Regions from separate parts of the Homo sapiens genome. Here regions 1 and 2 are each reported to be linked to region 3. The links are microRNA targets in miRTarBase. Many come from high-throughput screens and were not tested one by one. Region 3 holds a microRNA gene; each other region holds the end of a gene's coding sequence.
What was found. Region 3 holds the annotated microRNA hsa-miR-4684-5p (CUCUCUACUGACUUGCAACAUA, at 1,138-1,159, opposite strand). A microRNA usually pairs through its seed, bases 2 to 8, with sites in the 3' UTR of a target mRNA and lowers its output. Matches are read on the target gene's strand: a 7mer-m8 pairs with bases 2 to 8, a 7mer-A1 pairs with bases 2 to 7 and ends in A, and an 8mer does both.

Region 1 (3,103 bases), not on the chromosome of region 3:
GGCCTCCTGTGGGGACCGGGCGGTGCGGCTGTTTCACAACACTCCTGGCCACCGAGCCATGGTGGAGGAGATGCAGGGCCACCTGAAGCGGGCCTCCAACGAGAGCACCCGCCAGAGGCTGCAGCAGCAGCTGACCCAGGCCCAAGAGACCCTGAAGAGCCTGGGTGCCCTGAAGAAGTGACTCTGGGAGGGCCCGGCGCAGAGGATTGAGGAGGAGGGATCTGGCCTCCTCATGGCACTGCTGCCATCTTTCCTCCCAGGTGGAAGCCTTTCAGAAGGAGTCTCCTGGTTTTCTTACTGGTGGCCCTGCTTCTTCCCATTGAAACTACTCTTGTCTACTTAGGTCTCTCTCTTCTTGCTGGCTGTGACTCCTCCCTGACTAGTGGCCAAGGTGCTTTTCTTCCTCCCAGGCCCAGTGGGTGGAATCTGTCCCCACCTGGCACTGAGGAGAATGGTAGAGAGGAGAGGAGAGAGAGAGAGAATGTGATTTTTGGCCTTGTGGCAGCACATCCTCACACCCAAAGAAGTTTGTAAATGTTCCAGAACAACCTAGAGAACACCTGAGTACTAAGCAGCAGTTTTGCAAGGATGGGAGACTGGGATAGCTTCCCATCACAGAACTGTGTTCCATCAAAAAGACACTAAGGGATTTCCTTCTGGGCCTCAGTTCTATTTGTAAGATGGAGAATAATCCTCTCTGTGAACTCCTTGCAAAGATGATATGAGGCTAAGAGAATATCAAGTCCCCAGGTCTGGAAGAAAAGTAGAAAAGAGTAGTACTATTGTCCAATGTCATGAAAGTGGTAAAAGTGGGAACCAGTGTGCTTTGAAACCAAATTAGAAACACATTCCTTGGGAAGGCAAAGTTTTCTGGGACTTGATCATACATTTTATATGGTTGGGACTTCTCTCTTCGGGAGATGATATCTTGTTTAAGGAGACCTCTTTTCAGTTCATCAAGTTCATCAGATATTTGAGTGCCCACTCTGTGCCCAAATAAATATGAGCTGGGGATTAAATACGAATAAGACATGGTTTCTGCCATCAAAGATGGCTGGTGGGAGAGAGAGATACACCCTTATTAAGTGCTTTGTGTTAGTTTATTCATAGCTATTGTTATATATGTCAAGGCAAGAGAGGACCAGAGCAGGACAGAGGCAATGGGTATTGAAGTTGAAGGGGTACATTTGATAAGAGAGTCGGTATTGAGAAGTTTAAATTTGTGAATTTGAAGGCTGCGTGGGTGTGGCAGGTAAGGGAAATGAGGTATCTGGGAAGGCTTGAGTGTAGGCAAATTTATTCATCCCAAGTCAAACTCTTGATCTCTCTCACGAAAACTATGACCCCCCCTGGTTGCCCCTGACCTCTCAATGTTGGAACAAGCCACAACCGTGGAGTTATCCTTGATGACTCCCCATTCATTATCCCTTCTGTCCCACCACCACAGCTGTCATCTGTTCACCAGAACGTTCTTTTGGTTACACTCCATGTGACATCCTGAGGCTGTTGCTTCTCTCCAGCTTTTCTGTTACCATCCTGGTCCTGGCTACTGTCACCTAGTGGGCCACTATAATATGGCTTCCTAATGGATCTTCCTGCTTCCTCTGTTGCCTCATTACTTTTCTATATAGCAGAATGATCTTTTGAAAATGTGAACCAGATCACATTATTCCCTAGTTAAAACCCCCCAAGGCTTCCCATCACACTTGGAATAAAATCCAAAAGAATTTTTCTAAACCAAAAATAGTAAAAACAATTTTTTTTTTCTGACAATCTCTTGTCACCCAGGCTGGAGTACAATGGCGCAATCTCGGCTCACTGCAACCGCCGCCTCCTAGGTTCAAGCGATTCTCCTGCCTCAGCCTCCAGAGTAGCTGGGATTACAGGCATGTGCCACCACGCCTGGCTAATTTTTGTATTTTTAGTAGAGACAGGGTTTCACGATGTTGGCCAGGCTGCTCTCGAACTCCTGACCTCAAATGATCCACCACCCCCCTTGGCCTCCCCAAGTGCTGGGATTACAGGTGTGAGCCATCGTGCCTAGCTAAAAACACTTAATCCAAAATTCTTACCATGGCCTGCAAGGTCCTGTGTAACCTGGCTTCGTCCCCCCTCTAAATGCTATGAATGTCAGATGGGCACCGTAAATGTGTGAAGGGTCAGTTACCTGGGTGTAAGGCAGTAGAAGGTGGGGACAGAAGTGAGCTGGAGGGCGGGCTTGTGTCCTGCCTGCAGGATGGGGGGTGGCTGCTACTTATTCAGGAATCCAGCAGAAATTGCTTCACAGAAGCTAGAAGTGAGCAACTTAAATAACTAAACACTATCTGGACCAAACAAAACACTAAGGTCGGCCCGATGCAGTCCACTACTCTCTTATTGGCAGCTTCTGGCTCACTGTTGAACCCACTGGAATGAGAGCACCACCGGGCAGACTCCTGGACCATCCCACTGTCAGCTCTGTGGTCCAGGCACAGTACCTGGGACAGTGTAAGCACTCAATGTGAAACTCAAGCCAGGGGCAAGCCACAGACCTCCCAGTATCTTCTCCGCGCATCTTCCCACTCCCAGTCTCCATTGTGGTTTTGTATGTTCCTAACCACAGACTTTTGGCAATGCTGTGCACACAAGGCCTGAGGAGTATTTCCTTGGCAATTGTCAGAAGAATGAGACTAAAACACTTCCTTTGCGCACCTGTTCTTAGAAGCAGCTCTGGCATTACTCCCGTTGTGTATCCAGGACAGGAAGTGGCAGTAGAATGTTGAGTTACTGAAGTCAGATGTCTTCAGTTCCAGTTCCAGCTGGAGAGCAGATAGTAGGTCCGTTGACCTCTCTGAGCTTGTTTCCTCAGCTGCAAAATAAGAATGAATCCTGTGCTACCCACCTTGCCATGTTGTGTTTCAGTGAGACGAGAAAACACTACCAAAAAGTCATTCCACAGACTTCTGAGGACAGAAAGTGCCCTCACTCAAGCTTCTCTTGTAACCACAGAGAAGGTGTCTGGATATTAACATAGAGCAGAGGCCACCAAGGTTTTTCTTTTTTTTAATCAAAAATCCTGCATGTGAAGGCAGTAATTGTATCTTAATATTATAATTTCAACATC
Region 2 (3,103 bases), not on the chromosome of region 3:
GTAGCCAGCTGGGTTTAAAGTGCATCAAGACTCAATGAAGACCCTGTCAAAATGTAAGTGTATACATATGTGTCTGTATATATACACATATAATGGCTAAAGACCCAACCTACTATTGATTATAAAATGTTTAATTAGAATCATTTTTGTAGTCCTTAAAATGAAATTTTTTTTGGCATAAATAATACTTTAGGACTTGGTGATAACTACATTCCCATGAAAATATTTGAGTGAGAATTAGTGTACCTAGTCTGCTGCTTTAAAAAGTAAATGTACGGCTGGGCGTGGTGGCTCACGCCTGTAATCCCAGCACTTTGGGGAGGCAGAGGCGGGCAAATCACGAGGTCAAGAGTTTGAGACCAGCCTAGCCAACATGGTGAAACCCCGTCTCTACTAAAAATACAAAAATTAGCCAGGTGTGGTGGCGGGTGTCTGTAGTCCCAGCTACTCGGGAGGCTGAGGCAGGGGCATCACTTGCACCTGGGAGGTGGAGGTTGCAGTGAGCTGAAATCGCGCCACTGCACTCCAGCCTGGTGACAGCGTGAGACTCCATCTCAAAAACAAACAAACAAACAAACAAAAAGCAAATGTACTACTCACAAATGAGAAATTGAAGCTTGTTACATTCATGAACAGTACTAACTAAACAAAGAGGTTTTAGAATACATAAACATAATATTTATGGCTATCAATAGAAGATCCAAATTAATGAATTTTCTAAAGTTCTTTCTGTATATGGAACTAAGTCCAAATTCAGAAATAGTTTAAGGACACATGTAATCTGTAACTTGAGATACACTAAAATATCAGGTGACAGAATAAAAGACGCAATGTGTATCAAAGTTGTTTATAAGTATAGTTAAACATAGGGAGATGTGTCCCTATTTAAACATATACGTGGTATGCCATGGGACAAGTATATAATCTAATAAATTCTCTCTCTTTCCTCTCCAGCTGAAACATATAGCACTTTGTATTTTATCTCTTCTGCTACTTCTCTCAAACAAACAAGCACCTGTCTGCCATATCCCCACCACGAGTTTATCATTTCCCTTTAATGTTCTCAGTAAGTTAAAATATGAATACTGAAAAACATGCTCAAAGCTAGAAAAGACAACAATGGGATCAAACAAACTTAAAACCCTCAGAGATGAGAGCAAGACTCCCTTCAACTGAGGCCAAAATAGCCAGGACCTGAGGAAGAACTGAGAAGAGAAGTTAGGTAACTCTCTACAGGCAGTAAGCAGAAGTAACTGTCCACAGGCAGTAACAGCTGAGAGGCTGTAATGGAATCCAGATGCAATGGCAGATAAAATAAAACTGGTGCTCGAGGACATCCCTGGGTACTAACAAGGATACATATTCACAAGTGCAATGGTGGAATCACTGGAAATTTACATGAGAGGCTTTGTGGAATCACTAAAACTTTAGTTGAGAGGATTTGGGCATTTACAGTCTACACATCTAGAAGAACTCTATAAGCCGGGTATGTCTCAGCCTGAGTTTACGCTATCCTAAGGCAAAGAGTATACTCTTCTGCCTTGCCGATTACCTTCTTCCTACTCTTGTAGCTAAAAGTGACGTAAATTCTGAAATGAAATAAAATGTTACTCTTATTTGTCAAACAGTAATCCCAGAAGTCACCTAGGCAAATCAAGATTCCACTGTTAAACCTAGTGGCTAATGTCTCCAATTTATTCAGGTGTACTGTTTATACTCATGCTACTAATGGGTTAACAGTTGTCTACTGATATTCCATTAATAGTATAATATTATACATCAAATGTGATGTTACCTTGATCATGTTGTTGTTGTTGTTTTTTCCCACAGCAGAAAAAATGGTACAAACCTAGAGTTTCCAACCACTGGAATTTAGTTATTTTAACAATCCATTATGACCTCAGGCACTTTTGGCAACCATGGTGCAATGAATTGAATCCAATGGTATAAACTAAACAACTGAACTGCTCCAATACCAGGAAGCAAATAGCTACGAGCATTTTTTCTTTACATTTAACAGCAGACCTCTTTAATAGTCTCCTGATGTTCACCGAGAATATATAGTAAGATTCATATTTGAAAAATAGCAAGAAAAATTGTGTAAGTTTGAATCATGTTTCCACCCATCAATCTTGCATTGGTTACCAAGAAAACATATCTCCTTACCATTCAAAGCTCTATTTTCATAGATGTAAGAAGACAAGATCCACTTTGTTCATGGTGGCTGCCAAAAACTAACCAAAGGCTTTCTGTGGCTATTTAACCTTTGAGAAACCAAACAGCTATAAATTTCATCAGTTATTTAAAGACTTATTTCTTAATAGGTAAACTATAGCAAATTCAAAATAACCTACTTTTGTGAAAAAAAGTTTGATGAAATGAGCAGAATGCTTGCAGTGAGACTGCAAATAATGCTGCATCTACTAAATCTCTCATATCAGACTTCTCGTACAGTTGATAAAACAGACTATTTTATATGCACAGGAGTCCTCAATGATAGTGATCACCATATATCCCTTCATGAATTTTTCAAAAATGATTACTACATGGATTCCACACCACAAAACAAAACCATGCTTCAACTACTTCCCTCAAACATTACAAAACTAATTTCCTATTTTCAATATTGTAAAAATAGACTTGTCTTCTCCAAAGGATCTTGCTGTCCATACTGATGGATCTGTGTGTTCCCTCTTATCACTGGCCCTAAACACATAAATTATCTTCATCATTCCTTAAGTCCAATCTTACATAAAGTTGCATAATGCATGGAGTAAAAGAGGAATGAAGACAAAGCATGGAAGCCTATATAAATGTGCTGACCCAAAAGCAATCACACCAACAGCCAGAGGAAGTGGAAATTGTGAAGTAGTCTTCAACAATTTACTGTAAAGAGACAGAGAAATATACATTACTTATGTGAACTACATTGTGAGCCAAAATTATATCAATCTTTTATACAGTTTTGGAAAGATAAATATTCTAAGTGAATTTAAATGAATTTTTAATGATATGAATTTACCTATTCATAATTTCTTTTTTTATTTTTGAGATGGAGTCTCACTCTGTTGCCCAGGCTGGAGTGCAGTGGCGCAATCTCGGC
Region 3 (3,000 bases):
GGTAAGTGCTGGGGCGGGGGGGGGGGGGAATGAGATTTCTGGCTTCCTGTTGCCTCCCCACCGCCATCCCTGGACTGGACGATAAACTACCTGTGAGAGGCTGTCTCCAAATATGGCTGCCAACAATTCCTCCCCCTACTAAACACGAAGCCACTCCTCCCAGTAAGGGGGCGTCTAGATTCAAGTTTGGACCACAGGTTGGCCCAAGAAACATGGACAACAACAGGGTGCAGGGGCGGGCACTGAACTCTGAGTGTCACCTGATTCAGTGGGTCAGGACATGTTGAGTGGGACGCTGGATAACCCACCATTAAATTTTCCATGCTGAACAGCTGAGCAAGAAATGGGACTTCTCTTCAAGGATAAAACAAAAAAATCAAGCCCAGTATATTTTCCTTTTCCTTGAACCTGATGAGGAAGCCTGGGATGAATCTGAGCTGGTGTTGTGACTGGCTTTGACCACCACAGAAGGCTGCAGGGGTGACACTTTGTGACATTAGAGCCCAGCCCTTAAGAAGCCTTGCAGTTTCCATTTCACCATCTTGGGAGCTAATTGCCATGGATAGAGGCGCAGTCTAGACTAGCAAAGGATGGGAGATAGCGAGGAGCGTAGGGGGACCAGCCTTCCAGCCTTCTCTATGAGGGCCTCAAAGATGTATGTGAAGCCACGATGGAATTTCCAGCCCAACCTAGCTGAGTGCAGCCTCCTGAGTGATCCCAACTGACAACCCGGGGAACAGAATAAGCACCCAGCTGAGCCCAGCCAATCCACTGAATCAGGACAACTAAGAAATCATTATTGTTTTAAGCCAGTAGGTTTTGTGGTGGCTTGCTAAAGATAAGTGATATGCTTTTCAGGAGTGGAGTCCTGTACTTTTTGTAGCTCTCCCTTCCCTTGCCTGAACCCCTGAACCCTGGCAATGGGCACTGAATCCTGGAGCTGGAAGAGGCCTCCAAAATCACTGAGTCTCACCCCTGTCATTTTATAGAAGAGAGAGCTGAGGCTCGGGAAGCCATGCAATTGACTCCAGGTCACACAGGGTAACAGGGGCAGATCCAGGAGGCAAACTCAAGCCCTTACAGGGGTTGAGCACCAAGGGTACGTCTCCACCGACTTGCAACACACCAAGACAAATGTATGTTGCAAGTCAGTAGAGAGGTACCCCTGGTGCTCACACATTCTGTCTTAAGAGGCAGTCACTCCAGCCAACTGTGGCCATGTGGGAATGTGGGCCCTGTGAAACCAGATTGTCTGACTTTTCAGAAACGCCAGAAACAGGACTTTTCTGTAAAATCTCTTGATTTTCAAATGTTGGCTAAGAATTTGAACTGGATAGATGAGCTATTAAGATTGGCCCTGGGCTTCAAGCTTGGTCCCGCTGCTGGCTTTGGGCGAGTCATATTATCTCCCAGACCTCAGTTTCCTCATCTCTAAAGTGGGCCCCGTGGCTCCTGCCCCTTTCAGGATGGCTGTGAAGGCCTGATGAGCTATTGTATTTGGAAGTACAAGCTGCAAATGGCCCTGTGACTGTTTCGTAGTCTCCATTCTCTGTGGAGGCGCCCCTTACAACATAATGAGTTAACACCCGATTTGTCTAAGTTAGAACAACATTATTCTGACCATTATCACAGAGATTGCATTTTTATGGCAGGTTTGTGAGTTGTAGAACCCTCCCATTGCATTATCTCAGGATGTTGATGGAGCTGGAAGCTGGACAGCTGCCTTAGAGACCCTCATCAGAGCCAAGCCTTTCCTCTGAGCAGGGAGGCACATTCTAGAAGTGGAGAAGAGCATGAGCTCTGGAGTCACCAGACTTGGGTTTCAATCGCTGCCTCACCACTCCCTAGGTGTCCTTGGGCCAGTCACTCCTCTCAGAGCTTTGGTTTTCTCATCTGTAAAATGGGCACAATAATACAACGACCTGTGGGGCTCTTGGGGCAACTGCACAAGGCAACACACATAATGCTGTTAGTACAATGTCTGGCACAAGAATTGACAGCTGCTGGGCGCGGTGGCTCACACCTGTAATCCCAGCACTTTGGGAGGCCGAGGCAGGTGGATCGCCTGAGGTCAGAGTTCGAGACCAGCCTGACCAACATAGTGAAACCCCATCTCTACTAAAATATACAAAAAATTAGCCGGGCATGGTGGCAGGCATCTGTAATCCCAGCTACTCAGGGAGGCTGAGGCAGGAAAATCTCTTGAACCCGGGAGGCAGAGGTTGCAGTGAGCCGAGATTGCACCACTGCAGTCCAGCCTGGGCAACAAGAGCAATACTCTGTCTCAAAAAAAAAAAAAAAAAAAAAAAGAATTGACAGCCATTCCCATGATCATGGCAGGGAAGGTGGTGCCTGGCAGGCACTGGGCAAAGAAGGAGGGTACAGCCATGAAGGAGTCTACCCCTTTCCCAGATTAGGGAGGCTGAATTGGAGTGGGGAGGGGGCCTTTGAGAAAACCTGGATGGTACCCTGAGTGGGCAGGCTGGAGGGGCCTCTCAGCTACTTGGCAAGCCAGTCAGACCCTTGCCCTGTAAGGCTCAGAACACAGTGGGTGGGGGAGAGCTGGAGATGAAAAACCTGGTACACTGGCCCCCTGTTCCCCTACTGTGAATTGAGCTTCCCATTGGTAGAAAGCAAGGATAGCAACCGTTCACATTTATTGCAAGCTTAGCACACCTGAGGCACACACTCAGCTTAGTCTTCCTCAGATTAACACATCCATTGCTCACAACCATCTCAAGAGCTAGGAACAATGATTACCCCCATTTGAAAGATGAGGAAACCAAGGCTCAGAGAGGTGAAAACACAAGCCAGAGGACACACAGTACGGAGCAGTCTGACTCCACACACATTTCCTGTAACCCCCAGGCTCTGCTGTTTATAGAACAGGAGAGAAAGTGATCAGGGCTAAGCAAAGCCTCTGTAGGACTTCAGAGAAAGGGACAAGTCATTCTGGCCAGGGGCACGAGGGTGCTGCTGACATTTAATGGTTACGGAAAC

Region 1: miRTarBase lists TBL2 as a target of hsa-miR-4684-5p. Seed matches in the 3' UTR shown: 7mer-m8 at 455-461, 7mer-A1 at 551-557 and 7mer-m8 at 1,925-1,931.
Region 2: the mRNA of PGAP1 is a reported target of hsa-miR-4684-5p. Seed matches in the 3' UTR shown: 7mer-m8 at 1,228-1,234 and 7mer-m8 at 388-394.

Annotation. Positions count from the first base shown.
Region 1 is chr7:73,567,585-73,570,687 of GRCh38, reverse strand. TBL2 (transducin beta like 2) reads left to right here. Exons shown (of 7, transcript NM_012453.4): 7 at 1-3,103. The coding sequence ends at 181. Among named protein-coding and RNA genes, the nearest start is that of TBL2, 9.4 kb to the left of the region's middle.
Region 2 is chr2:196,838,487-196,841,589 of GRCh38, forward strand. PGAP1 (post-GPI attachment to proteins inositol deacylase 1) reads right to left here. Exons shown (of 27, transcript NM_024989.4): 27 at 1-2,886. The coding sequence ends at 2,748. Among named protein-coding and RNA genes, the nearest start is that of C2orf66, 31 kb to the left of the region's middle.
Region 3 is chr1:22,717,689-22,720,688 of GRCh38, reverse strand. It overlaps MIR4684 (microRNA 4684), which reads right to left and starts at 1,172; the gene lies at 1,091-1,172. All of the region lies in intron 1 of EPHB2 (EPH receptor B2), which reads right to left. RefSeq lists an enhancer at 2,836-3,000.